Regions from separate parts of the Homo sapiens genome. Here region 1 is linked to region 2. The links come from fine-mapping of genetic effects on gene expression. A gene starts in region 2. The other region holds a variant in brackets. All regions are shown on one strand. Distances are between the middles of the regions. Region 1 holds the start of CLASRP (CLK4 associating serine/arginine rich protein). Region 2 holds the start of GEMIN7 (gem nuclear organelle associated protein 7).

Region 1 (14,905 bases), 42 kb after region 2:
ACATCTATCTTGTTTAAGCCACTGACGGATGCTCTAGGTTTGTTAGAGCCAAAGCTGATTGTCCATGTGACATCCTTTCACATGTGGAAGAGGAAATGGGCTCAGGGAGGCAGTCACTTGCCCACGTCACACTATAGATAAGTGGGATCGCTAGAATTTGAACCCAGAGCCCCATGACTCCCAAATTCTAAGGACTAACCATGATGGGATCTCACCTCCTGGCTGTGTTGCCTTGGGCAAGTCACCTCACCTTTCTTTTTTGAGACAGGGTCTCACTCTGTCACCCAGGTTCCAGTGCAGTGGTGCAATCACAGCTCACTGTAGCCCCACCCTCCCAGGTCTCATCTTGCCTCAGCCTCCCAAGTAGCTGGGACCACAGGCGCATGCCACCAAACCTGGCTAATTTTTTTTTATTATTTTTTGCAGAGATGGGGTCTTGCTATGCCTCATCTTTTTGAACCTCTATTTCTGCATGATAAGGCGCAGGTGAAAAGCTTAGAGAGGTTAAGGGTCAGAGACTGGGTTATAGTGCCAGCTCTGCCCTCATGCTATGTGACTGTAAGCCACGTATCTCCGTGCTCCAGTTTTGTCCTCTGTAAAATGGAAATAGTAAGAACCACCTCCTAGTCTTGGGTGTGGCTTTGATGAAGCGGAGACACAAGCCAAGTAGTTAGCACAGTGGTTACCACAGAACTGCCCAACAGCGTTAGCTGTTATCGTGGCATCACCTTTAACACAGGCATGATCAATACCTACCTCGCAGGCCTGTTCAGAGGACTACTATGCCAAGCTGGTGAGCACTGGGTCTGGCGCACCATGGGCCCTTAATAAATGGCAGCTAGGCTGGGTGTGGTGGCTCACGCCTATAATCCCAGCGCTTTGGGAAGCCAAGGCAGGCGGATCACTTGCAGTCAGGAGTTTGAGACCAGCCTGGCCAATATGGTGAAACCCTGTCTCTACTAAAAATACAAAAATTAGCCGGGCGTGGTGGTGGGCACCTATAGTCTCAGCTGCTTGGGAGGCTAAGGCAGGAGAATTGCTTGAACCCGGGAGGCGGAGGTTGCACTGAGCCGAGATCGTGCCACTGCACTCCAGCCTGGGCGACAGAGCCAGACTCCATCTCAAAAAAAAAAAAGGTAGCTATTCATTCCTGAGTGCTGTGTTCCTAGGCCACTTCTGGGGCCTCAACTATGACCAACAGAGACCCAGGCCTTGCCTTGATGATCACATCTTTCTGACACTATCGGAGATGAGTTCTCCCTTTAGCCCCGTGGTTCCTTCCTGGGTGGCAGAGGTAAGCAAGGAGCTCTCAGAGCTTCCTCTTCTCTGCTGAGTGGAAGTAAGAGCGGTCTCTGTCTCACAGGTGACTGTGGGGATTCAAAAAAAATCCTGCATCTCTCACATGGCCTGGGGGTGCCTGCGAAGGATCAATTAAATGGTTAATTACTATTGTTAATATTGTTTTATTCATCTATTCTTTCAAACCATATTTGATGGACCCAACCCTAGGGTACAAACGTGACCCAAATATAATTAGTCCCCAGTCTCACAGAGCTGGGTATGTGCATATACGTATGAATGGAAAAAATTTTTTTTTTTTTTTTTTTTTTTGGGACGGAGTCTCGCTCTGTCGCCCAGGCTGGAGTGCAGTGGCACTATCTCGGCTCACTGCAAGCTCTGTCTCCCGGGTTCATGCCATTCTCCTGCCTCAGCCTCCCGAGTAGCTGGGAGTACAGGTGCCCACCACCACGCCCAGCTAATTTTTTGTATTTGTAGTAGAGACGGGACACACACACACACACACACACACACACACACACACACACAAAGTATTCCTTATCTGAAGTGCTTGGGATCAGAGGTGCTTCAGATTTTTTCAGATTTTGGAATATTTGTCTATTCATAATGAGATATCTTAGGGATGGCACCCAAGTCCAAAGACCAAATTCATTTATACTTTATAAGCACAGCCTGAAGGTAATTGTATACAATATTTTAAATAATTTTGTGCATGAAACAAAGTTTGTGTAAAGTACTTATATGTGAAACTTTCCACTTATAGTGGGGCATCATGTCAGTATGCAGAAAGTTTCAGATTTTGGAGCTAGCCGGGCGTGGTGGCTCACGCCTGTAATCCCAGCACTTTGGGAGGCCGAGGCAAGCAAATCACTTGAGGTCGGGAGTTCAAGACTAGCCTGACCAACATGGTGAAACCCTGTCTCTACCAAAAGTGCAAAAATTAGCCAGGCATAGTGGCACATGCCTGTAATTCCAGCTACTCAGGAGGTTGAGTGAGGCAGGAGAATAGCTTGAACCTGGGGGGTGGACGTTACAGTGAGCTGACATCATGCCACTGCACTCCAGCCTGGGCGACTAAGCAAGACTCTGCCTCAAAAAAAAAAAAAGATTTTGGAGCATTTCGGATTTTGAATTAGGGATGTTCAACCTGTGTATGCGTATGTGTGTGCGTGTGTGTATACATACATACACACACATATATATATATATATAAATTTTTTTTTTGAGATGGAGTCTCACTCTGTTGCCCAGGCTGGAGAGCAATGCAACCTATGCCTCCCGGGTTCAAGCAATTCTCCTGCCTCAGCCTCCCGAGTAGCTGGGATTACCATTTACTCCTGTATTACTGCCCCAGCCTCTTCCCTGGTCTGCTGGCCTCCAGTCCTGGCTCCTCCAGTCTGTCCTCCCTAGAAGAGTCCAGGAGGCCTTTCTAAAGCACAAAACTGACCCTGTCCCTTCATTGCTCAGAGCACCTCTATGGCTCCTAAGTGCCCTTGAGAGAAAGCCCAGGCTCCTCACCACCTCCAGCTAATTTCTGTATTTTTAGTAGAGACGAGGTTTCATCATGTTAGCCAGGCTGGTCTCAAACTCTTGACCTGAGGTGATCCACCTGCCTTGGCCCCCAAAATGCTGGGATTACAGGCGTGAGCCACCACACCAGGCCCATGTATGTGTATCTTAAGTGTGTTAAATTCCACAAAGGGGAAGGAAAGGGAGCTATGATTATGGCATTTTTAGAGGACACCTGACTGAGCTTGGGAAACAAGACTTCTCTGAGGACTGAGATCTGACAGATAAGCAGTAGTTAACCAGGTATGGGAAGAGCTCATACAAAGGTCCTGTGGCTGGGGAGCGCTTGGGTCAGTGGAGGAATAGCAAGGAGGCCAAAATGACTTGTGCAAAGGAACAAGGCAGAGTGTGGGGTGGTGTGAGTCTGGAGGAAGGGCAAAGGCCAGGCCATGCAGGACCCTAAAGGCCACAGTGAGGAGCCTGGGCTTTCTCTCAAGGGCACTTAGGAGGCATAGAGGTGCTCTGAGCAACGAAGGGACAGGGTCAGTTTTGTGCTTTAGAAAGGCCTCTTGGACTCTTCTAGGAAGGACAGACTGGAGGAGCCAGGACTGGAGGCCAGCAGACCAGGGAGGAGGCTGGGGCAGTAATACAGGAATAACTGGGAAAGGTCTATATAAATGTCATCTGACAGGAACACTGAACCTAGAAAACAGGTGCCATTTCAAGCTGGGATCCCAAGGATACACAGGAGTTAAATAGGTGAGGGGGGGTAATATAGGCCAAAGCCCTGTGGTGGCAGAAATAGAAGGCCAGTGGAGCTGTCCGAGTATGAAGCTGAGTGGTCAGACCACAAGGGTCTTTTAGGCCAGGGATAGTTTGGTCTTCCCCGCAAAAACAACTGAAGCATCAGACAGGAGAGGGAAGTGGTCAGGTTTCACTTAATATTCACTCCTTTTTTTTTGAGACAGTCTTTTTTTTTTTTTTTTTGAGACAGAGTCTCGCTGTCGCCCAGGCTGGAGTGCAATGGTGCTATCTCAGCTCACTGCAGGCTCCGCTCTGCCCCCCTCCCCGGTTCACACCATTCTCCTGCCTCAGCCTCCCGAGTAGCTGGGACTACAGGCACCCGCCACCTCACCTGGCTAATTTTTTGTATTTTAATAGAGATGGGGTTTCACCGTGTTAGCCAGGACGGTCTCGATCTCTTGACCTTGTGATCTGTCCACCTCGGCCTCCCAAAGTGCTGGGATTACAGGCGTTGAGTCTTGCTCTGTCACCCAGGCTGGAGTTCAGTGGCACAATCTCCATGCACTACAGCCTCCTCCTCCCGGGCTCAAGCAATTCTCGTGCGTCAGCCTCCCAAGTAGCTGGGACTACATGCACACACCACTAAGCCTGGCTAATTTTTGTATCTTTAGTAGAGATGGGGTTTCACCCTTTTGGCCAGGCTGGTCTCGAACTCGTGACCTCAGGTGATCCACTTGGGATTACAGGCGTGAGCCACTGTGCCAGGCCAACTTAATACTCACTCCTATTGTGTGCCAAGCCAAATCTCAAGAGTGGCTGAGCTCTTCTGGGAATGGGGAACACAGCAATAAGCGAAACAGACATTCTGGAGGTGGCCAGTCTAACGTCAGGACTGCTCTGAGGGTTACAGAGACTTCCCTTTTTCTTGCTAACACCGGATCGGCACTGGGAGGCCACACCAAACGACACAGTATGCTACAACAAACAGAAGCCCTTGGGATCCCACCAATGATTATCCTCAAGAAAAGATTAATGAATATACTCCTGAGGAAATGAGCCTCTTGTCTTGACATACTTCCAAGCCCAGATTTTACCAGGATGACCAGCTGTGCCCCCCAACCCAGGGTCCCTCACCCCAGACAAAAGGCCAGTTACTCACGATCTTTTCATAATACTCCCGTCTCCGCTCCGCCCTCTTCTTGTAGTCGACCATCATGCCTCGAAGCTTCCGCTCATGCTTCCGAGCCTCGTGCCACATTGTGGTGAGGCCAAGCCTGGGGCCTCAACCTGAGGGATGAAGGGACCAGGAAAGTCAGATGGTCTGTGAAACCCGTATGGGCAGAATCAAAGTCATCTAACAAGTTGGTGGCAGAGTCGATCCCAAACAACACATCTCTTAGCTTCAGGGAGCAGAAGTGAAGCTGCAGAACAGTATGCCAGATGTTCAAGTCCATCCCTAACAACTTCGATCTAGAAGCTTGGGCATTCTGAAAAACCCTCAGGTGATTCTGAGGTGAGCATCACTGGGAAAGGGGTGTCCTAGATTCCACGCGCTGGAGTCGGGAATGAAAGGTTTTGAAACATCAGCAGTGTTTGAAGTAGGGTCAGAAGGCAAACCCTGAGCACTTAAGGCTGGAGCTCAAGAGAAAGAGAAGAACTGAAAAGGCTCCCACTAGGGGCCATGCGTGGGGTTGGGTATGAGTCTGGGTGGTAGAGGGATAAGGAGAATAAGGATGAAGGCAGGTGGAGGAAATCGGAGAAAGCTTTTAAGGGAACAGTGCAGTTGTATGAAGGTGGAGGTCGAGGACAGGTGAAGGGCGTGGCGGAAGATGAAGATGCTAGAGGGAGTGGGAACACGGGGAGGGAGTGTTGCAAGGAGACCAGAGTGAAGCTGAGGTCTAAAGATGGGATCTAGATGGCGGGGTGGGGAGAGCATCCAAAGAAAAAGAGCGTAGAGCCTGAGAGAGGCGGAGCTGGCTGACAGGAGGGCGTGGGCTGAGCTTGGGGGCAGGGCTTGCGGGAAAGGGCGGAGACCGAAGGTTTGGACGGGGCTTGTGGATCGCGTCGCGGCCTGAGGATTTGGGCTGGGTTTTTTTTTTGTTGTTTTTTTTTTTGACAAGGGGGCGGGGCCTGTGATAAGCTGCTGGGCCGAAGGCCGAGTTCGACGCGGCAACTTCTGGCCCACAGCCGGGGCACGGGCTCGGCCTGAGGCCCGTCAGGCCTAATGGGGTGAGGGACGAGCGATCCTCGGGGCCGGGACGCAGCAGAAGCCCACAGCAGCATGGGGAGAGCCTGAGGAAAGGGAGAAGCTGGGCTGAGGCCTGCCCGAAAACCGGGAGGTCGAGCCGCAGCCTGCACTCACCGGCTGGTCGCCGCCTCCCACCGCTGCGCTCGCGCGCGGCCCGCACCGGAAGCGGAAATGAAAGGCCGCGCTAGGGGGAGGGGGCGGAGCATGGTGGAGGGCCGCGCAGCGCACTTCCGCCGACGAGAGAGGCGGGTCCTAGAGTCGAGAGGGGCGGGATCCCGAGGAAGAAGTGGGAGAGCGGAGAAGGGAAGAGCTTGGATGCTTTATCTTTTTATCTTTTTTATTTTATTTATTTATTTAATTTTATTTTTTTGAGACGGAGTCTCTCTTTGTCTCCCAGGCTAGAAGGCAGTGGCGCGATCTAGGCTCACTGCAACCTTTGCCTCCTGGGTTTCAGCTATTCTCCCACCTCAGCCTCCCGAGTAGCTGGGACTACAAGCGCGCGCCACCAAGCCCGGCTAATTTTTGTATTTTTAGTAGAGATGGGGTTTCACCATTTTGGTTAGGCTGGTCTCAAACTCCTGACCTCAGGTGATCCACCTGCCTCGGCCTCCCAAAGTGCTGGGATTACAGCCATGAGCCACCATGCCCGGTCTCATTTTTTATTTTCATTTTCATTTTTTATTTTTTTGAGACACAGCCTCGCGCTGTCGCCCAAGCTGGAGTGCAGTGGTGCGGTCTTGGCTCACTGCAACGTCCACCTCCTGGGCTCAAGCGATCCTCCCACCTCAGCCTCTAGAGTAGCTGGGATTACAGGCGCGCAGCACCACGCCCGGCTAATTTTTGTATTTTTTGTAGAGACTAGGTTTCGTCATGTTGCCCAGGCTGGTCTCAAACTCGTGAGCTCAAGCGATCCTCCTGCTTTGGCCTCCCAAAGTGCTGGGATGACAGGCCTGAGCCCCCAGCCTGGAGGCTTTCTTTGCTACTAAGGGACTAGGGCGTTTCCCAAGCCCAGAACAGACGAAACCCCGGAGGCTCAAAAACTCATCTTTATTGGGAAGACTCTGAACAACCAACCTACCCCCCACCTTCAAGTCTGGGGAGGGAGGGCCAGGAATCTGCCCCCTCCTCCCATATGTACAATCTTTTCCGAATCCTACTGGAGAAGGTGCCCCCACATGTGGGGACAGAGGCAGCTGTAACAAGCTAGTGCACGGGAGCCATGTCCCTTTTCCTCTCCGGACTCAGTTTCCTCATCTGTAAAATGGGCTCAAGGGGAAACCCGTGCAACGGAGCTTCTCGCCAAGGCTGAATATGTCCACTTCAGAAGCATGAGGAAGGGCCAAGGGGATGGGGGTGCTAGACATCCTGGTTGGGATTGCACGGCTCCTCCACCTCCCTCCCCACCCAGTGCCCCTCCTCTGGCATCGCGGGGCTACGTGGCTTCAGGCCCCGGGGATAGGAGGCCGCCCCCAAAGGCCGCCTCGCGGTAATGATTGGGGAACATGTTGCTGCCCACAAGGCTGGCGGTGCCTCCATCCCCGGGGCCCGGGGCCTGGTACGAGTCCAGTGTCAGTGGTTCAGGGCCGGGGGTCTCCCCAACCACGGCCCCGGCACCTCCGCTGCACACAACAGCGCTAGCGTGTGGCGGTGCCGGGGGCAGCAGGTCCAGCATGGTGAAGAGTGTGGGGGCCGTAGGGTCGTAGGCAAAGCCATCGTCCAGGAGGTCAGGCCCGCCAGGGGGCTCCAGGCCGGGCAGGGACACGGTGCCAGAGAAGAAGTCAGGGTCTGGCAGCAGGGCTGACGGCGGGAGGAACGGGCCTACGGGGATGAAGACAAGAGAAGTGTAGTGTGATTTAGGGCTAAC[T/G]TCTGATCAGGCCCTAAATCAAATGCCCTACTCCCTGCAAAATGTGATATCAAGGTGGCCTTTTTTTTTTTTTTTCTGAGATGGAGTCTCATTCTGTCACCCTGGCTGGAGTGCAATGACGTGCTCTTGGCTCACTGCAACCTCTGCCTCCCCAGTTCAAGTTGATTCCCCTGCCTCAGTCTCCTGAGTAGCTGGAACTACAGGCCAGGCATGTGCCATGCCCAGCTAATTCTTATCTTTTTAGTAGAGACGGGGTTTCACCATGTTTGCCAGGCTGGTCTCGAACTCCTGACCTCAGGTGATCCACCTGCTTCGGCCTCCCAAAGTGCTGGGATTACAGGTGTGAGCCACCAAGCCTGGCCTTAGGTGCCCTCTTAATCCCAAGGAGAATCCGTGTGGGACTATCACCATTCTCAGATAATAAGTAAATTGAAGGCCAAGCGTGGTGGTTCACACCTGTAATCCCAGCACAACGTGACGAGACCCTGTCTCTACAAAAAAATTATTTAAAAGTTAGCTGGGTGTGGTGGTGCCCGCCTGTAGTCCCAGCTACCTGGCAGTCTGAGGCAGGAGGATTGCTTGAGCCCAGTTTGAGGCTGCAGCGAAGTATGATCACACCACTGCACTCCAGCCTGGGCAACAGAGCAAGACCTTATCTCTAAAAATAATTAATAATAAGTAAACTAAGGCACTGAGGGAAAGTAAATGGAAGGCTCACACAGCTGTTGTGGAACTGGGGTTGAAACCATGCTCCTACACAGCTGTGGAGAGTTTTCCCTGAGAGTGAGAAAGGAGAAGAGGTTCCAAAGCCCCCCAACATACAGAGACAACCCAAAAAGTGAAATCTCCAGACCATGGGAGACACAAGTTGGGAAGTCACCAGTCCCAAAATTGTCAGAAAAAATAAATGTCATTCTCAGGCATAATGGGGACTTAAGAAAAAATAACAATCAAATCAAAAAGTTTCATTATAAGAGGGATTCTCAGGCCAGGCATGGTGGCTCACGCCTGTAATCCCAGCACTTTGGCAGGCCGAGGCGGGCAGATTACCTGAGGTCAGAAGTTCAAGACCAGCCCGGCCAACATGGCGAAACCCCTTCTCTCCCAAAAATACAAAAATTAGCAGGGCATGGTGGTGGGCACCTGTAATCCCAGCTACTCAGGAGGCTGAGGCAGGAGAATCACTTGAACCTGGGAGGTGGACATTGCAGTGAGCTGAGATTGTGCCACTGCACTCCAGCCTAGGCAACAGGGCAAGACTATCTCAAAAAAAAAGAGGGACTCTCTTTTTGGAACAAGACAAACCTTAGAGACACAAGGGACTATTTTCTAGCCTTCCTTGCAGCCTGATGTGATCATGTGACTAAGGTCTGCTAACTGGAACGTGGGCGTAATGGCTGGAGCTACAACAGCCACCTTGCACCATGAGTTGGCGAACTGAAAATGGCAGAAGCCTCGGTCTCTCGATGATCATGCAGTCACCAGACCATCCCTGGAACACCTACCTATGGACTGTTTTTTGTTTCTTGTTTTTGAGACGGAGTCTTGCTCTGTTGACAGGCTGGAACACAGTGGCACCATCTTGGCTCACTGCAGCCTCCACCTTTTGGGTTCAAATGATTCTCCTGCCTCAGCCTCCCAAGTAGCTGGGACTACAGGCATGTGCCACCACATCCAGCTAATTTTTGTGTTTTTAGTAGAGATGGAGTTTCACCATGTTGGCCAGGATGGTCTCTCTCTCTTCACCTCGTGATCTACCTGCCTTGGCCTCCCAAAGTGCTGGGATTACAGGCGTAAGCCACAGTGCCAGGCCTGTTTTGTTGTTGTTGTTGTTGTTGTTTTGAGAAGGGTCTCATTCTGTTGCTCAGGCTAAAGTGCAGTGGTGCAATCTTGGCTCACTGCAACCTTCACCTCCTGGGTTCAAGTGATTTGTCTGCCTCAGCCTCCAAGTAGCTGGGACTACAGGTGTGCACCACCACACTCGGCTAATTTTTGTATTTTTAGTAGAAACAGGGTTTTACCACGTTGGCCAGGCTGGTCTCAAACTCCTGGACTGAAGCAGTCCACCTGCCTCAGCCTCCCAAAGTGCTGAGATTACAGGCATGAGCCACTTTCAGTCCCTACAGACTATGTATGTGAGACAAGAAATAACGTTCTATCCTGTTGAAGCCCCTGTTATTTTGGGTTTTGCTGTAAATGCAGTTAAATGTGATCATAGGTGGGATGCAGTGGCTCATGCCTGTAATCCCAGCACTTTGGGAGGCTGAGGCAAGCAGATCACCTGAGGTCAGGAGTTCAGGACCAGCCTGGCCAATGTGGTAAAACACCGTCTCTACTAAAAAATACAAAAATTAGCCAGGTGTGGTGGTGTATGCCTTTAGTCCCAGCTACTTGGGAGCCTGAAGCAGGAGAATCGCTTGAACTCAGGAGGCAGAAGTTGCAGTGAGCTGAGATCATGCCACTGCACTGCAGTCTGGGCGACAGAGCGAGACTCCATCTCCAAAAAAAAAAAAAAAGAAAGAAGAAATAGATCAAATTTTAAAACACCACTGAGCTAAGTATGTACTGGGCCTTTTCAAAGGAGTCCCTGAGGCTCTGAGAGGTAGAACAACTTAATGAAGTTCACATAGCAAGGAAATGGCCCAGAAGAGATCAGAACTTCCATTCTGTCTCCAAAGCCCTCATTCTTTCTACTCTATGTTGCTGGCTAAGTGCTGAGTGACTCGCCTTGTGGCTGCTCTTGGAGGGCGTGAAGAGGCCAGAAAAGCAGGGCTGCCACTTACCCTCTGCCCACCCAGGGGACAGGGGCTTATGTGTAGCTGGGACCCACCTGAGCCGTGGTTGGGCAGGAAGTGGTCCAGGATGGCCGGCTTTTTCTTCCGCCGTTTGCTCTCGATGCCATGGGGGTCTGAGGGAAGGCAGAGATGAGGACCCCTGTTCCCCGACAGCCCTTCCTCCCCAGCCTGGGGTGGGACAGGGCAGTGGGGTCAGCTGTCCCCTCCCCAGAACCTGGGGATGGGGGTGGAAAGGGGCAGAGGGCACACACCAGAGCTGTTCAGCTCCCCAAGGACGTCGGGCATCCCCCGTTTCCGCTTCTTGTCCACGCCGTAGCTGTCTGTTAAGGAGATACCAGGGACACACAAGAAGTAATTCATCAATAATAATTAATTCCTTTATTTATTTATTTATTTATTTATTTTTAGAGACAGTCTTGCTCTGTTGACCAGGCTGGAGTGCAGTGGCACGGTCTTGGCTCACTGCAACCTCTGCCTGCCAGGTTCAAGTGATTCTCCTGCCTCAGCTTCCCAAGTAGGAGGGATTACAGGTGTGCGCCACCACGCCCAGCTAATTTTTGTATTTTTTTAGTAGAGATGGGATTTCACTATATGTTGGCCAGTCTGGTCTTGAACTCCTGACCTCAAGTGATCTGCCTGCCTTGGCCTCCCGAAGTGTTGGGATTACAGGTGTGAGCTGCTGTGCCAGGCCTATTTTTTTTTTTTTTAAAGATGGAGTCTTGGCTGGGCGTGGTGGCTCACTCCTGCAATCCCAGCACTTTGGGAGGCTGAAGTGGGCGGATCACCTGAGGTCAGGAGTCCGAGACCAGCCTGACCAACACGGCGAAACCCGGTCTCTACTAAAAATACTAAAATTAGCCGGGCATGGTGGCGGGTGCCTGTAGTGAGTCTTGCTCTGTTGCCCAGGCTGGAGTGCAATGGCACAATCTTGGCTCACTGCAACCTCTGCCTCCCGGGTTCAAGCAATTCTCCTGCCTCAGCCTCCCGAGTAGCTGGGACTATAGGCGCCCACCACCACGCCCGGCTAATTTTTGTATTTTTAGTAGAGACGGGGTTTCGCCATGTTGTTCAGGCTGGTCTCGAACTCCTAACCTCAGGTGATCCGCCTGCCTCAGCCTCCCACAGTGCTGTGATTACAGGCATGAGCCACTGCGCCCGGCCTACACACTGGCCTCTTTGTTGTTCCTGGAGCACCCCAGGCACAATCCGGCCTCAGGACCTTTGCACCTGCTGTTCCAGCTGTTTAAAGCACTCTTCCTCCACTCTCACTATTTCCCTAGAAAACTTCCCTGCTTAGTCATCCTCCTGTCCTCAGCTCAGCTGTCCCCTCCTCCAAGAAGCATTCCCTGACACCTACAGCTGGGTCAGGTACCCCCTCTGGGCAATGTGAGCCCTTGAGCACTTCATTCCAGTCCTGCCCACTCTGGTCATCACTCTGTAGGGACAGGCTGTCCCCTATCCTCAGGACTATAAGCCTCATGAGGACACAGCTAGGGGCCGTGCTGGTCACTGCTGTGTCTCTAGCAATACCGAGCACAGGCCCGGGCATGTGCAGGATGCTGAGGGGAGGAAAGATTAAATACTCTCCAAATGTCACAGGACAGCTACTATTATTTCCATTTTGCACAGAAGAATGAGGCTCAGAGAGGCCAAGGTCACACAACCAGTAAGCAGCAGAGCCAGGATCTGAACACTGTCTTTGTAGCTCTGAGCCTGCATTCTAGTTCTGCCTCTTTCCCATCCCCACTGGGGTCTCCCCAAGGCCAAAGACCTAGTCTCCGAGGTGGTGGGTCACCCTGGGTTGCTGTAGTTACCATGGTCGCGAGGCAGGTACGTGAAAGGCAATGGCTCGCTGCAGACCCCATCGGTGAGCCGCTGCAGGAAGACGTTGACTGTCACGGGCTCGACAATCTCCAGGTCCTCGTAGGGCGGCGTCTTGAACACAATGGCAATCTGGCGGTGCACGTCGGCCTGGGAGAAGTCAGCCCGACCTTCCCAGGAGGCCCTGCTGAACACCACTGATATGTCCTCTGGCAGGAAACGGGGGACATCAGCTAAGCCAGGACATCTGGACCACTGTGCTCCCAACTTGCCCAGCCTCCCCTAAAATCAAGACTAATATTCCCCCTTTTTAAAATTTTTTTTTTTTGAGAGTCTTGCTCTGTTGCCCAGGCTGGAGTGCAATGGCGCGATCTCAGCTCACTGCAACCTCTGCCTCCCGGGTTCAAGCAATTCTCCTGCCTCAGCCTCCGGAATAGCTGGGATTACAGGCATATGCCACCACGCCCGGCTAATTTTATTTTTGGTTTTTTTTTGTTTGTGTGTTTTTGAGATGGAGTCTCACTCTGCCTCCAGGCTGAAGTGCAGTGGCATGATCTCGGCTCACTGCAACCTCCAACTCCCTGGTTCAAGTAATTCTCCTGCCTCAGTCTCCCGAGTAGCTGGGATTATAGGCATGTGCAACCACGCCCAGCTAATGTTTGTATTTTTAATAGAGACGGGGTTTCACCACGTTGGCCAGGATGGTCTCGCTCTCCTGACCTCGTGATCTGCCCGCCTTGGCCTCCCAAAGTGCTGGGATTACAGATGTAAGCCACCAAACCCGGCCTTGTTTTATGTATTTTTATATATATTATCTCATTTAATCCTTATAACAATTTAAGAGGTAGGTAGAATTAATATCCCCCTTGCCAGGCACGGTGGCTCACGCCCATAATCCCAGCACTTTGGGAGGCCGAGGCAGGCGGATCACGAGGTCAGGAGATCGAGACTACCCCGGCTAACATGGTGAAACCCCGTCTCTACTAAAAATACAAAAAAATTAGCCGGGCATGGTGGCAGGCGCCTGTAGTCCCAGCTACTCAGGAGGCTGAGGCAGGAGAATGGCGTGAACCCGGGAGGCGGAGCTTGCAGTGAGCCAAGATCGCACCACTGCACTCCAGCCTGGGGGACAGAGCAAGACTCCGCCTCAAACAAACAAACAAAAGAATTAATATCCCCCTCATGTCCAGGGATCCTCAAGATCACCCTCAGGTGGTTCAGTAAGAGGACTCACAAGACAGCATACAGTCATACTCACAGCTATGATCTGTTATGGCAAAAGGATACCAGGCACAGTCAGCAGAGAAAAAAGGTGCCTGTCCAGGCATAGTGGCCCACACCTGTAATCCCAGCCCTTTGGGAGGCTAAAGCTGGCAGATCACTTGAGGCCAGGAGTTCAAGACCAGACTGGCCAACACAGCAAGACCTTGTCTCTACAAGAAAATTAAAAAATTAGCCAGGCATGGTGGCGCACGCCTGTGGTCCCAGCTATTTAAGAGACAGAGCGAGAGCCTGGTTCTTAAAAAAAAAAACAAAAACGGAAACTGAGGCTTGAAAGTGTTGAGACATCACACAACTGGTAGCGGAAGAGTCAGGATTCATGATGCTACTCTGCCTGCTATTTATTTTTCTTGTCTTACTGCATCGCCCGTCATCACAGTACCTCCATGTACTGAGACTTTATATGTGTCAGTTACATATAGATTGCCTCTAAGTCACACAACAACTCTATGAAGAAGGTACTATTAGGTACCGTATTGTATAAAGACGAAAATGAAGGCACAGAGAGGTGAAGTCACTTGTCCAAGGTCACACAGCTGGCAAGTGTTAGAGCCAAGATGGAAACCCAGGAAGGCTAGAACTCTTCACTACCAACTCTGTTATAACTTGGGGAAGTTACTAGATATCTCTGGAACCAGTTTCTTCACTTTACTTTATTCTATTTTGAGACAGAGTCTCGCTCTATTGCCCAGGCTGCAGTGCGGTGGCACCATCATAGCTCACTGTAACCTCCAACTCCTGCACTTAAGCAATCCTCCTACCTCAGCCTCCCAAGTGCTGGGACTACAGGCACATGCCCCAACATGCCTGGCTATTTTATTTCATTTTTTGAGACAGAGTCTCACTGTGTTGCCCAGGCTGGTGTGCAATGGCATGATCTCGGCTCACTGCAACCTCTGCCTCCCAGGTTCAAGTGATTCTCGTGCCTCAGCCTCCCAAGTAGCTGGAATTACAGGTGTGTTCCACCACACCCAGCTAATTTTTATATTTTTAGTAGAGACAGGGTTTCACCATGTTGGCCATGCTGGTTTTGAACTCCTGACCATAAGTGATTCGCCCACCTTGGCCTCCCAAAGTATTGGGATTACAGGTGTGAGCCACCACAGCCGGCCTAATGCCTGGCTATTTTTTAATTAAAAAGAACTTTTTTTTGTAGAGATGGGGGCTTGCTATGTTGCCCAGACTGGACTCAAACTCCTGGGCTCAAGTGATCCTCCCACCTCAGCCTCCCAAAGTGCTAGAATTACAGGCATGAGCCACCAGCCCAGCCGGTTTGTTTTTGGTTTTGATTTTTTGAGACAGGGTCTGTCTCTGTCGCCCTGGCTGGAGAGCAGTGGTGCAATC
Region 2 (14,905 bases):
AAAATACAAAAATCAGCCGGACGTGGTGGTGCGTGCCTGTAATCCCAGCTACTTGGGGAGCCTGAGGCATGAGAATCACTTGAACCTGGGAGGCAGAGGTTGCAGTGAGCAGAGATTGTGCCACTGTACTCCAGCCTGGGCAACAGAGCAATACTCTATCTCAAAAACAAACAAACATTGGCTGGGCGCGGTGGCTCACGCCTGTAATCCCAGCACTTTGGGAGGCCAAAGCAGGTGGATCACGAGATCAAGAGTTCAAGACCAGCCTGATCAACATGGTGAAACCCCGTCTCTACTAAGAATACAAAAATTAGCTGGGCATGGTGGCACGTGCCTGTAATCCCAGCTACTCATGAGGCTGAGGCAGGAGAATCGCTTGCACCAGGGAGGCAGGGGTTGCAGTAAGCGGAGATCTCGCCACTGCACTCCAGCCTGGGCGACAGAGCAAGACTCATCTCGAAAAAAACAAACAAACAAAAAACAAAATGAATGAAGAGTGGAGATCCCAGGCCGGTTTAGCTGTGTGACATCAGTAAGAGACAGTTTTCTCTTCCATTGTATGGAAAAATAGCCCCAATTGCTGCCTATGCTGTTATCAGGATTCAACAGGCTCCTGCCAGACAGGGCCTGGCACATTCTAGGTTCTCCATAATAGTGAACTGCTCTTATTGTTAGTATTGCTGTGTGACCTGGGGTAAATGGCTTGACTAATCTGTGCCTCTGTTTCCCCATCTGTAAAACAGAGCCCTAACTCACAGGGCGGGCATGGGGACTAAATTACCTAACTAACCTACCATGTTTGGCACATGTCTGGGACATATGAAGCGCTATGCTATGATGTTGAATGTGTATAGGGAAATGCTGGCCTTGTGGGTGCAGACCTGAGAGAGGAGGACCTAGGTTTTAGCAGCTGCACCACTCCCTGTGGCTTGGTCCTCTCCTCTCTAAACCTAGTGAGGACTAACTGAGCTGAGTGACAAGTGTTGGGTACCCAAGACCCTGGGGCCAGGCACAGAAGGGAGGTGATTGAAATTGTCCTGTTTCTTTTTTTTCCTTTTTTGGAGACAGAGTCTCACTCTGTCACCCAGGCCGGAGTGCAGTGGTGCCACCTCGGCTCACTGCAACCTCCGCCTCCCAGGTTCAAGAGATTCTTGTGTGGCCGGGCGTGGTGGCTCACGCCTGTAATACCAGCACTTTGGGAGGCCAAGGCAGGCGGATCACGAGGTCAGGAGATCGAGACCATCCTGGCTAACAAGGTGAAACCCCATCTCTATTAAAAATACAAAAAATTAGCCGGGCGTGGTGGCAGTCGCCTGTAGTCCCAGCTACTCGGGAGGCTGAGGCAGGAGAATGGCGTGAACCCGGGAGGCGGAGCTTGCAGTGAGCCGAGACCACGCCACTGCACTCCAGCCTGGGCGACAGAGCGAGACTCCGTCTCAAAAAAAAAAAAAAAAAAAAAAGAGATTCTTGTGCCTCAGTCTCCCGAGAAGCTGCGACTACAGACACACACCACCATGCCCAGCTACTTTTTGTATTTTTAGTAGAGACGGGGTTTCACCATGTTGGTCAGGCTGGTCTCGAACTCCTGACCGCAAGTGATCCCCCCCATCTCAGCCTCCCAAAGTGGTGGGATTACAGGCGTGAGCCACTGTGCCTGGACTAACTTGTCCTTTTTCTTATTAGGCTCTTCCTGTCTCTGCACCTGAACTGTGAGCCCCTTGCAAGACAGGACCCTGCAGATAGACCAAGGATGTGAACCAGGGCTACTCAGTCTGGACACTATTGACATTTGGGGCTGGATAATTATCTGCTATGTTGTGGGGGCTGTCCAACGCATAGGTGTAGGGTTTGAGCAGCATCCTAGCCTCTGCCTCCTATTAATAGATGCCAGTAGCATCCCATCTTCAAGTTGTGACAGCCAAAAATGTCACCACTGGTGAACAGTGAATTGGTGAATGTGAATTGCATCTCAATACAGTTTTTTTTTAAAGTCTCCATGAATTGCCAAACGTCTCCTGATGGCCCCAAATGAAACACTGATGCAGACAAACAGGTCACAAAGAGGGAGGAAGGAATAAAGATGGCTATAGAAGACATGAACATAGGCTGGGCACAGTGGCTCCCGCCTGTAAACCCAGAACTTTGGGAGGCCGAGGCAGGCGGATCACCTGAGGTCAGGAGTTTGAGACCAACCTGGTCAACACGGTGAAACCCTGTCTGTACTAAGAAATACAAAAATTAGCCGGGTGTTGGCCGGGCACTGTGGCTCACGCCTGTAATTCCAGCACTTTGAGAGGCCGAGGTGGGCGGATCACCTGAGGTCAGGAGTTCGAGACCAGCCTGACCAACATGGAGAGACCCTGCCTCTACTAAAAATACAAAATTAGCCTGATGGTGCATTTCTGTAATTAGTGGTGGTGCATGCCTGTAATCCCAGCTACTTGGAAGGCTGAAGCAGGAGAATCACTTGAACTCAGGAGGCAGAGGTTGTGGTGAGCCGAGACTGCGCCATTGCGCTCCAGCCTAGGCAACAAGAGTGAAACTCTGTCTCAAAAAATAAATAAATAAATAAAATTAGCTGGGCTGGGCATGGTGGCAGGCTCCTGTAATCCCGCCTACTCAGGAGGCTGAGGCAGGAGACTCTCTTGAACCCGGGAGGCAGAGGTTGCAGTGAGCTGAGATATTGTGCCACTGCACTCCAGTCTGGGTGACAGACTGGGACTCCATCTCAAAAACAAACAAACGCCCCAAAAATTAGCCAGGCATGGTGGCACACACCTGTAATCCCAACTACTCAGGAGGCTGAGGCATAAGAATCGCTTGAACCCGTGAGCCAGAGGCTGCAGTGAGCTGAGGTCATGCCACTGCACTCCAGCCTGGACAACACAGCGAGACTCTGTCTCAAAATAAATAAATAAATAAATAAAATTTTTAATTAATTAATTTTATTTTATTTTATAGAGATGAAGTCGCACTATATTGCCCAGGCTGGTCTCCAACCTGGGCTCAAGTGATCCTCTTGCCTCAGCCTCCCAAAGTGCTGGGATTACAGGTCTAAGCCACCATGCCCAGCCACTAAATTTTAATTTCTTTTTTTTTTTTTTTTTTTTGTGAGATGGAGTCTCGCTCTTGTCGCCCAGGCAGGAGTGCAGTGGCGCGATCTTGGCTCACTACAACGTCCGCCTCCCGGGTTCAAGCGATTCTCGTCACTCAGCCTCCCAAGTAGCTGGGATTACAGGTGCCCGCGACCACGCCCAGCTGATATTTTTATTTTCAGTAGAGACGGGGTTTCCCCATGTTGGCCAGGCTGGTCTTGAACTCCTTACCTCAGGTGATCCACCCGCCTTGGCCTCCCAAAGTGCTAGTATTACAGGCGTGAGCCACCGTGCCCGGCCTAAATTTTAATTTCAGAAAGCAAGAAGCAGCTGGGCACGAGGTGGCTCACACCTGTAATTCCAGAACTTTGGGAGGCTGAGGCAGGTGGATCACTTGAGCCCAGGAATTTGAGACCAGCTTGGGCAACATAGCAAAATCTCGTCTCCAGAAAAATAGAAAAATTAGCTGGGCAAAGGGTGCGCTCCTGTAGTCCCAGCTACTCAGGAGGCTGAGGTGGGAAGATCTAGTGAGCCGGAGGAGGCTGAGGCTGCAGTGAGATGTGATTGCACCACTGCACTCCAGCCTGGGAAGAGTGAGACCCTGTCTCAAACAAAAAAAAAAAAAAAAAGAAGAAGAATTGGAAAAGAAAATGTGAAAAAGAGCTCTCCCTGGGAGGCATCTAAACCTCATCACCCACTCTGCATAATTAGCTGCCAAATCTTACTGATCTCACATGCCCATAGGTGGCCCAAATAGAATCCTCCTTGGCAAAATTGTTTTGGGGATGGAGTCTCACTCTATCCCCCAGGCTGGAGTGCAGTGGTGCAATCTTGGCTCATTGCAACCTCTGCCTCCTGGGTTCAAGCAATTCTCCTGCCTCAGCCTCCTGAGTAGCTGGGATTACAGGTGCGCGCCACCATGCCTGGCTAATTTTTGTATTTTAGTAGAGACAGGGTTTCACCATGTTGGCCAGGCTGGTCTACATCTCCTGGTCTCAGGTGACCCACCCCCAGTTCAGCTTCCCAAAGTGCCGGGATTACAGGCGTGAGCTACCGCGCCCAGCGGGCAACATATTTTCAATTTTAACTTTATTTTATTTTTCTTCTTGGCAAAATACGTAGCAGAGGTCTGCGAACCTTCTCTGTAAGTATTTTACTGTCACTGCTCAACTCTGCCACAGTAGCACAACAGCAGCCATAGACAATATGGAAACAAATGAACATGGCTGTTCTCCAACAAAACCTTACTTACTGGGACACTGAAATTTGAATTTTATATCATTTTTATGCACCAAAGAAAAGTTTTCTAGCCAGGTGCGGTGGCTCACAACTATAATCCCAGCACCTTGGGAGACTGAGGCTGGAGAATTGCTTTAGCGTAGGAGTTCAAGACCAGCCTGAGCAATATAGCAAAACCCCATCTCTACAAAAAAAAAAAAAAATTAGCTGGGCATGGGTAGTGTGCGACTAGAGTCCCAGCTACTAAGGAGACCGAGGTGAGGGGATCGCTTGAGCCTGGTAGGTGGAGGCTGCAGTGAGCCATAACTGTGCCACTGTACTCCAGCCTGGGTGACAGAGTATGAGACCCTGTCTCAAAAAAAAAAAAATTCACTCATCCACATTATCTAGCATTGTTAGCACATCATCTGAGTGCCTGCTCTGTGCATGACCCACATTGGGCGGTCTTGGAAACACGTCTAGGACTGAGAGCCCAGTTCCGCCTTTGTGGGCTCACAGTCCAATAGGGGACACAGACCTGTCCTTAGGCAGTGATGACCCAAAGTGAGTAGGGCTGGAATGAAGGAGTCCAGAGGAGACACCTGACCCAGCCTGGGGGATAGAGGGTAGTTTCAAGGGAGCCCAGGAAAGATCCCTATGATAAGATTACGTTTGAGCATAGACCTGAATGAAATTAGGAATGGAGCCATGTGGAGATTCCAGTCAGAAGGAAGAGCAAAATGCAAAGATCATGGAAAGGGTGGCTTTGGGGCGTAGCAAGGCCAGTGTGGAGGAGGTGGGGGCAGGGACAGAGAGAGTGCCTTGTGGGCTGTGATGACAATTTGGGTCTCTACTCTGAGACTGAAGCCACTGGACAGTTCTGAGTGAAGGATGGGCAGAATCTGGCTTAAGGTCCTCAGGATCCTCTGCCTGCTGCATGGACAATAAACGAGATTGAAGGGAGACACTAGGAACGCAATGAGGAGGTCACTGTAGTGGTCCAGGTGGAAGAAGATGGCGTCTAGTATGGGCTGGGGACAATGGGAATGGGGAGAAGTGGTCAGATTAGGCTATGTTTGAAAGGTCGAGGCTGGGCGCAGTAGGTCACGCCTGTAATCCCAGCACTTTTGAAGGCTGAGGTGGGTAGATCGCCTGAGGTCAGGATGAGACCAGCCTGGTCAACATGGTGAAACCTCTCTCTACTAAAAATACAAAAGTTAGCTGGGTGTGGTGGTGCGTGCCTGTAATCCCAGCTACTCGGGAGGCTGAGGCAGAAGAATCGCTTGAACCCGGGAAGCGGAGGTTGAAGTGAGCGGAGATCGTGCCATTGCATTCCAGCATGGATGACAGAGTGAGACTCCATCTCAAAACAACAAAAACAAACAAAAAAAGAAAGGTCAAGAGCCCTCGGTGATGGACAGGATAAGGGATATATAATTTGAGGGAAAGAGCAGCCAAGGGAGACTCCAAGGTTTTTTTTTTTTTTCCTGACAGGGAAGACCACGTGAATGGAATTAAGGGATAGTTGCATTTTCTAATTTTTTTTTTTTTTTTAAGACGGAGTCTCACTCTTGTCGCCCAGGCTGGAGTACAGTGGCATGATCTCAACTCACTGCAACCTCCGCCTCCCGGGTTCAAGCAATTCTCCTGCCTCAGCCTCCCAAGTAACTAGGACTACAGGCGCGCACCACTGCACATGGCTAATTTTGTATTTTTAGTAGAGACGCGGTTTGGCCACGTTGGCCAGGCTGGTCTCAAACTCCTGATCTGCCTGCTTCAGCCTCCCAAAGTGCTGGGATTACAGGCATGAGCCACCGTGCCCGGCCTTGCATTTTCTAATTTTTTAAAAAGCACATTTACTTATTTATTTACTTTGAGGTGAGGTCTCGCTGTATTGCCCACGCTAATCTTGAACTCCTGGACTCAAGATATCCTCCCACCTCAGCCTTCCGAGAAGCTGGGATTACAGGCCCACGCCAACACGCCCTACTTGCATTTTTTATTTTCTCTGACCACTGTCACTCCAATTTAGTCAGGCCTCACCAGCCCCCAGGGTCTTTCCTGAGCCTAGATTAACACTTGAGTTTCAAGAGAAACCCCCTAGTCTCTAGGGTGAGTACTTACTAAATGACTTAGATAGGATTAGAGTGGCCAAAGAATTCTGTTAAATCCCTGGATAAAATGAAATTAAGGGAGGGCCAGTATAGGGCCTTGTTTTCTCCATCAGGAAAAAAAAAAAAAAAAACAAAAAACAAGGGAGATTTGGTCATATTGATGCAATCCCCATTTTTGTAAAGTGGCCAGTGAAGCTGGCAGGTCAAATCTTTCCTCGGGCTGGGTGCAGTGGTTCACACCTGTAATCCCAGCACTTTGGGAGACTGAGGGAGGCAGATCACCTGATGTCAGGAGTTTAAGACCAGCCTGGCTAACATGGTGAAACCCTATCTCTACTAAAAATACAAAAAAAATTAGCTGGATGTGGTGGCACGCATCTGTAATCCCAGCTACGCAGGAGGCTGAGGCAGGAGAATCCCTTGAACCAGGGAGACGGAGGTTGCAGTGAGCGGAGATCACGCCTCTGCACCCCAGCCTGGGCCACAGAGTGAGACTCTGTTTCAAAAAAAAAAAAAAAAAAATCATTTCCTTGGTGCAAGCTGGAGGGTGGAGGAAGAGGGAGCAAACTCTGGTCCTCACCCGTGCCCCATGTAGAAAGGCAGACTGTGGAGCCAAGGTGTGACCTGATAAGAAACTGGTTTAAGAAAGATCACACAGGGTGTGCCCAGGAGGGTAGAGGCAGGCGTTATCCATTGTCCCTGGTGACCTGGCCCCAGAGGCCTTTATCCTTTCAGTCTCCAAGGCAAGGATTTCCGAAGGTTTCAGGGAAAAATGCCCAAGCCCATCCCCCACGACTTGAAAAACTAGTCTGTTAGATTCAAGAGCCCAACACTTAGGTCAATGGCAGGGGCAGGGGTTTCACAGACCTCCCTCCTGGTGGCCCCGGTGCTCCAGAGAGGAGATCAGCTCAGTGGACAAACATTTGGCCAACTCTTCACAATTGCCAGGGTGTGGAACCAGCTGAGTTGTCAACAGAGAAGCCGCCAGACCTAATTAATTAACCAAGGTGTTGACGTGTCCACAGACACACACACACATACAGACATCATCGGCTGCTGAATCTTGATGCAAATTAGCTAAATGGGGCCACCCGAGAGGGTCAGAACCCCAAGCACAGAATCTCTCCCCTCCCCTTCTCCCCTGGGGCCGGTCAGTTTCCTTTCAATTCCGCCCTGACCACCCATTGCTCTCCTTTTCTTATACTAAGTAGGTCCTCCCGGCCCCCAGGCGTCCACTCCCCACACCGCCCTGGGCGTTCGGACTGGACCTTCTTCCCACCTCCAGGCTCAGACTGAGCGAGCGATTCCGCTCCAGGTAAAGCGGGATGACTGCCACCGATGCTTCTGTTATCGTGGCCATTTATTATTTTCCGGAGGGGAAGTTTTTCTCCTTCTCCCTTCTCCTCACCCCACCCGCGTGGGGCATTCCCGCTGCCGGCGATCGGGATCAAACAGTCCCTGATAGGAGCGTCTGGGGACCAGAACGTCCCTCCAGCCGGCGCTGCAGGCGCGGTCCTACCTCTTTCCGTCACTCAGGGCGTTGCACTGGGGTGAGCGTCCAGAGCTGGGGCCGGGGAGAGGGAACCTGCTGGCGACCCCCCACCACCTTGTACTCACCGAGGTCCGCGGCTACTGGTGTCCCCACTTCCGCCGGCGCCCCCGCTGCAGAGGCCCGGGCAGGCCGCAAGCCGCGGAGCCTGGGTTCCGCCCGCGCCGCCGCCACTGCCCCACGTGGTCGCGGGCTGGCTCGCAGGCTTGGAAGCCAGCACAGCCCGGGTCGCCACCTGGCCCGCGGCTTTGCGGGGCACTTGGGACCGATCTTCCTGCCTGCGAGTTGGGGGCGTCTGGGATGCCCATTTTAGGCAGGAAGAAACTGAGGTTCAGAGAGGGGAAGACTTCCTCCCTGCTGGGTTAAGGGCAGAGCTCGGTCTTTGCATCCCCATCCCCCTACACATACCCACTCCTAACCCCTTGCTTCCAGTGGGAACCCCCGCTCCTCTACAGGAAACCTGGAGATCATGGTTTCAGATGCCGCATACTAAGAAAGTAGCTGGGCTGGATCAGAGGCGGTCATTTTGTCCTCCAGCTCTCCCTGCAGTCCCATTTTACAAAGGGGGAAACTGAGGCCTTGAATGGGGAATATGAACCTCCCTATTCCAGGCCCAGTCAGAATTCACTTTCTCCTTGCGGGGTCCTCTTTACGCAGGGATCCTGTGGGCCTTTGCTTTCCACTAGATCACCAAGGCCTAGTGCCAGGTACACAATTTGGTGCTCTGCAAATATCTGTTGAAAGAATATCATCAGACACATAGTAGGTGCGCAATAAATATTTGTTGACTTAACTATGAACGAGTAGGGGTTGTATTTATGAACAAGACAGACTCCCATCCTGCCTCCTAGAACCTACGTTCTAGTGGGGGTAGAAGGGACAGAATAGGGTAAAATGAGCAAATATGTAAACAAGATCCTTCAGGGTTTGATCAAAGTGATGTATAAAGAATAAAATAGGCCGGGCACGGTGGCTCACGCCTGTAATTCCAGCACTTTGGGAGGCTGAGGCGGGTGGATCACCTGAGGTCAGGAGTTCGAGACCAGCCTGGCCAACATGGTGAAACCCTGTCTCTACTAAAAATAGAAAAATTAGCCGGGCATCTGTAATCCCAGCTACTCCGGAGGCTCAGGCAGGAGAATCACTTGAACCCGGGAGGCGGAGGTTGCAGTGAGCTGAGGTCGTGCCACTGCACTCCAGCCTGGGCAACAAGAGTGAAACTCCATCTCAAAAAAAAAAAAAAAAAAAAAGAGTAAAATAAGGGCAATGGGATAGTGGGTGGCTGGGTTGCCATGGAACTTAAAATTGGGTGGTCTGAGGCTGAGTGCAGTGTCTCACACCTGTAATCTCAGCACTTTGGGATGCTGAAGCAGGAGGAGCGCTTCAAGCCAAGAGTTTCAGACCAACCAGGGCAACAAAGCGAGTCCCTGTCTCTATTTAAAAATAATTTTTTTTGAAAAATTAAAAATTACAAAAAAAAAAAGGGTGATCAGAGGAGGCGGCAGTGAAGAAGAAACCACCTCAGATAACCCTCTAGTTCCAACCTGCCCTACCTCCTTTGACAGATGGAGAAAGTGAGATCCAAGAGGGAACTGGGGACAGATGGAGGTCATGGAGTGTAATTTGCAAGGCCTTCAGCAGGGTGGGGCTACTTTAGATACTGTTGGTCAGGGCCCTCTGCTCTCAGGAGGACAATGGAACCCAGACCTGAATAACAATGTGCAGAACTCCAAGAGATCAGCATCTGAAATCAGCATCTGGGCTGAGGACAGCTGGGGGAGGACAGGTTCTTGCCCTGACCTCAGGGGGCTTGCATTGGGTGGGGGAGAGGACAGTCCACAAGCCGTTCTATACTGTCGTGCAGTCGGTGCCAGGAAGAAAAGAATACTCATCAGGGATTGAGGGTGGGGCAGGGTGTCGATGCCACTTCAAACAGTGAGCAGACAGAACTGCTTAGGGGAGGGAAGTTCAAGGAGGCGGAGTGGAGGCAGGTGAGCTGCTTGGCTATTTGGTTTTAATGGCGACTTCTGGTCTAGGAACAGAGTCGATGTGTATGATTACAGTCCTCCTCTGCTCAAAACCCTCCTAAGGCTCCGGTCTCAGGAAAACCAAAAGACCTTAAAGCGATCAAAAGATTGCTTGGATCTGCCCCCATATTTTCACTGAACTCAATCCCCAACCCGTATTGCCTCTCCCTTTCCTTGTAATTCCTCAATGCCCAGGCCCACTGGCTGGGCTTCCTTCCCTCCAGCCTCAGCTCCACCATGCCCTTTCCCATCATAGGGGAGAAAATTGAATCCCTCAACCCCAGTAACCCTCTCCGCCTTTCCAGCTTTCTTTTGCTCCATGGCACTGGTCATCATGAAGGGCCATCTATATTTTACGTAATTATGTTTATAGTGTCTTCCCCCACCGTCTGAACTCCGTGCAAACAAAGATTATCTTCTGTTTATTCCCTCCTGTATTCTCAGGGCTTCAAACAGAGCCTGGCGCACAGGAGGCACTCAGTGAATGCTTGCAAAATGAATTTTTATTGTAATGCATTTAATGAAATAGCCCAGATTACTATCAGGCACCTAATAAGAAACGTGACCGACTATTTTTCTCGCTTGGGGGTGCGTGTGGGCATGCCGTGTCTCAGTTTCACCCGCCCTAAAACGGGATCAGGGATAGCTGTTTCAATGCCTTGTGGGAACTCGGTGTGATTAAATTTGGTCACTAAGCCAAACGCACGGGACACTGCCTAGATTGAGTTAGGCCGCCGTCAGGGCCCCAGCAGGGCGGCTCGGTCCCCTCCCATGAGCCCCGCCCTGGTAGGCGGAGCCACGGGCCCGGCCAGCACGTGTAAGAGTTCGCGGCGGGTCGCCGCAGTCACTCACCTGAGCGCGCACGGTCCGCGCGTCCTCCGCTCGTGCGTCCTCCGCCCGCCCGCCTGCCTGCCTGCCCGCCCGCTCGCTCGCCCGGCCCGCGACTCATGTCCCGCCGCAAGGCCGGCAGCGCGCCCCGCCGAGTAGAGCCCGCGCCCGCCGCCAACCCAGACGACGAGATGGAAATGCAGGACCTCGTCATCGAACTCAAGCCCGAGCCAGACGCGCAGCCCCAACAGGCCCCAAGGCTGGGGCCCTTCTCCCCGAAGGAGGTGTCCTCGGCGGGGCGGTTCGGCGGCGAACCCCACCACTCCCCTGGCCCCATGCCCGCCGGGGCCGCCCTCCTCGCCCTCGGCCCGCGGAACCCGTGGACCCTGTGGACGCCGTTGACCCCGAACTATCCCGGTGAGCACCCCGGGCCCTGGGCCCAGCCTCCCTTACCTTTGACCCTCGGGTGGGACCCTTCCCTTTGGGCATGGGCCCCTCGCCCTGCCTTATCTCCTTCGCCCCGTCCTGCCCCTCAGGCCCCCTTCTGACCTTCGGTTTCCCCTCTCCTTCAGCACCCTCAGCCCCCATCCTGGCCCCACCCCACGCTCACCACCCGCTTCCTCCCTGCAGACCGCCAGCCCTGGACCGACAAACACCCAGATCTGTTGACCTGCGGCCGCTGCCTGCAGACCTTCCCGTTGGAGGCCATCACTGCCTTCATGGACCACAAGAAGCTGGGCTGTCAGCTCTTCAGAGGCCCCAGCCGCGGCCAGGGCTCAGGTGAGTAAAGCCGGGTGCAGTCCCCCTCTCAAGTTCGAGGGCTGGGCTTCCTGCTGGAAAGGGGCTGGGCTGGACGGCAGGGCACTGAGCACTACTTCCCCTTTCTCGCTCCCCATCGGGTGCAGCCTAGGCGTGGCCAGGGCCTGCCCGTCCTAGGGCAGGGACCAGTGGTGGCGGTGGAGGGGGGGCGGGGGGGGACTGGGCAGGGAAGGAGGGCCGCCTACAGGGTGTGGCCAGCCCCAGAAGACTAGCCCGGGATTTTGCCCCCCCCAACACACACCCCAACCTGGTTTCACTTCTCCTTCCCCTTGGCCAGAAATAACTGGCCAGGTGGCTGGACCAGGGTGGCAGTAGGAGGGGACCTCTAGGGAGGGCAGCGGCCGGGGGGAGGGGGAGTGGAGGCCAGCTGGAATGGGGAGGTTGCCACCCCCTCCTGTCTCTCTCTGTCAATTCTGATTGAGGTGCTAGTACAGCTGAGTGTTCAGAGCCAAGGAAGGGGCTTCTGGCTTCCCTCGGTGATGGAATCTCCCAGCCCCGCGTGCTGGGAATCCCCTGGTTTGAGCGAGCTCCCGGGTGCTGGACACCCGGGTTCCTTCTCTTGGGAGGGAATTAAAAGCCTTCACATGGGGCTTGACCCTCGGTGAGCTTTTGGTCAGTGTTGGCTGCAGGGCTTAATCCAAACCTAGTTTCCAGCCCCCTGGCCCTTGCCCTTCTGAGACTTTTGAGAAGTGGAATTATTTAGGGTTGGGCCAGGGAGGGTCTGGTGGTGGGAAAGAGGAGGGGCTTGTGACTGATTGAATCAGCTTTAGAGCTGGAGCATGGAGAGTGGCCTGGAGGAGCGAGCGAGGGGCTGTGATGGAATCGCTGGAACAAAACACTACAGGGCTTGGAGAATCATGGGCACCTTGGTTTCACAGGCTCTGCTGTTTGAGCGCTTATGTGGACCAAAGCTCTCAACCATTCCCCAAGCGAGGTCACAACCACCCTTGAAAGGGAGGGGATCTCTAGGGTCCCTGAATTCTAGCAACTGAGGCACACAGAGGACTATGTCTTGCCCAAGGTCACACAATTAGGGAGCAGAGAAGTCTGAATTTGAATGCAGGCCTGTGCTCTTGACCCAGGACTGGTTGTATCACAAAGGTTGTCCCATCCAAGACTCTAGAATTTGAAAAATGGAAAGGCTAGTTCACCTAGGAAGTGTCCACTGAGAGTACCCCGAAGGTCCAGATAGAAATCCAAATTCAGGTTTGGGGGCTCAATTTGAGATCCATGCAGAGGGTGGGGGACCCAGGTCACTACCACCTCTTTACTAGGTGGCCGCTAAGCTTTCTCTGTAGCTACCCCATTATTTTGAGGTGGAGTCTTACTCTGTCACCCAGGCTGGAGTGCTGTGGTGCAATCTCAGCTCACTGCAACCTCCGCCTCCCAGGTTCAAGTGATTCTCCTGCCTCAGCCCTCCAAGTAGCTGGGACTACAGGCGTGCACCACCATGGCCAGCTAATTTTTGTATTTTTGGTAGAGACAGGGTTTCACCATGTTGACCAGGCTGGTGTCTCAAACTCCTGACCTCAGGTGGTCCACCTGCCTTGGCCTCCTGAAGTGCTGGGATTACAGGCATGAGCCACCATGCCCAGATATCTCAATTACTTTAAAAATTATTTTTATTAAACCAAAAAAAATTTTTTTTTTTGAAACAGAGTCTCGCTTTTGTCACCCAGGCTGGAGTGCAGTGGTGGGATCTCGGCTCACTGCAACCTCCGCCTCCTGGGTTCAAGCGATTCTCCTGCCTTAACCTCCCAAGTGGCCGGGATTACAGGCGCGCACCACCACACCCGGCTATTTTTTATTTTTACTAGAGACAGGGTTTCATCATGTTGGCCAGGCTGGTCTCAAATCCCTGACCTCAAGAGATCAACCCGCCTCAGCCTCCCAAAGTGCTGGGATGACAGGTGTGAGCCACCGTGCCCGGCCTAAACCAAAAATCTTATTCAAAAGCCTCTGCTCCCAGCCAGGTATGGTGGCTCACGCCTATAATCCCAGCACTTTGAGGGGCTGAGGCGGAAGGATTACTTGAGGCCATTAAGTTAAAGAATAGCCTGGGCGGCCGGGTGCGGTGGCTCAAACCTGTAATCCCAGCACTTTGGGAGGCTGAGGCGGGCAGATCATGAGGTCAGGAGATCGCGACCATCCTGGCTAACACGGTGAAACCCTGTGGCGTGGTGGCTGAGGCAGGAGAATGGCGTGAACCCCGGAGGCAGAGCTTGCAGTGAGCCGAGATCGCGCCACTGCACTGCAGCCTGGGCGACAGAGCAAGGCTCCGTCTCAAAAAAAAAAAAAAATAGCCTGGGCAACATAGCAGGACCCCATCTCTTTAAAAAATACTAAATTAAAAATTTAAAGCAAAAAAAAAAAAGCAAGCAAGCCTCTGTTCTGCCCTCTCCCCCTCCCCCAGTAGTCTGGATTGAAATCCCAGCTTCACCCCTTCCAAGCTGTGCAACCCTGGGGAAATGCCTCTCTGTGCCTCAGTTCTCCTGTCTGGAAAATGGAGATCTTATTTTCCTGTCCTGAGGGAAAGCCGGGCTATGAGCCATGGCTCAGCACCTAGCATGTAGGAAGCGCTTACTGAGTTAACATAACTTTTTAAAAGATTTTCAAACACATGGCCCAGCACAGTGGCTCATGCCTATAATCCCAGCACTTTGGGAGGCCGAGGTGGGTGGATCACTTGAGGCCAAGAGTTCGAGACCAGCCTGGCCAACACGGTGAAACCCCCATCTCTACTAATTAGCCAGGCATGGTGGCGGGCGCCTGTAATCCCAGCTACTCTAGAGGCTGAGGCATGAGAATAGCTTGAATCCAGGAGGTGGAGGTTGCAGTGAGCTGAGATCGTGCCACTGCACCCCAGCCTGGGCGACAGTGAGACTGTCTAAAAAAAAATGTTTTCAGGTACTTAGCACCCACTCCACAGATTTTTCGTGTCCACCCCTCCTCTGAGCGTCAGCTTCCTGGTCCTTCCAGGGTGTGTGTGTCTTGTTACTGCCAAGTCCTTTGCCCCTGCAGGAGTGCCTATCCCACAGAAGGTGTCCAGCTGGCAGCTGTCCGCACTAACACTCTGCCTCTTTTTCTTACCAGAACGAGAGGAGCTGAAGGCCTTGAGCTGCCTGCGCTGTGGCAAACAGTTCACAGTGGCCTGGAAGCTGCTGCGTCACGCCCAGTGGGACCACGGACTGTCCATCTACCAGACAGAATCAGAGGCCCCGGAGGCCCCGCTCCTGGGCCTGGCCGAGGTGGCTG

Evidence for each region. PIP is the estimated chance that this variant, and not a neighbour inherited with it, causes the effect.
Region 1: its variant is fine-mapped to the expression of GEMIN7 in whole blood (TOPMed, PIP 0.99).

The regions. Positions count from the first base shown.
Region 1 is chr19:45,030,118-45,045,022 of GRCh38, reverse strand. RELB (RELB proto-oncogene, NF-kB subunit) reads right to left here. Exons shown (of 12, transcript NM_006509.4): 9 at 12,274-12,489; 10 at 10,711-10,779; 11 at 10,495-10,572; 12 at 6,831-7,618. The coding sequence ends at 7,233. CLASRP (CLK4 associating serine/arginine rich protein) reads right to left here and starts at 5,978. Exons shown (of 21, transcript NM_007056.3): 1 at 5,915-5,978; 2 at 4,712-4,839. The coding sequence starts at 4,810. RefSeq lists an enhancer at 5,435-6,304. The variant T/G (reference allele first, on the strand shown) is at 7,665.
Region 2 is chr19:45,072,419-45,087,323 of GRCh38, reverse strand. GEMIN7 (gem nuclear organelle associated protein 7) reads right to left here and starts at 8,064. Exons shown (of 3, transcript NM_024707.3): 1 at 7,947-8,064; 2 at 7,295-7,417. It overlaps ZNF296 (zinc finger protein 296), which reads left to right and starts at 10,846. Exons shown (of 3, transcript NM_145288.3): 1 at 10,846-11,248; 2 at 11,462-11,611; 3 at 14,744-14,905. The coding sequence starts at 10,951. It overlaps GEMIN7-AS1 (GEMIN7 antisense RNA 1), which reads left to right. Exons shown (of 2, transcript NR_134887.1): 2 at 1,684-1,995. RefSeq lists enhancers at 5,516-6,281, 7,050-7,817 and silencers at 7,987-8,246, 10,650-11,059, 11,150-11,389, 11,720-12,029.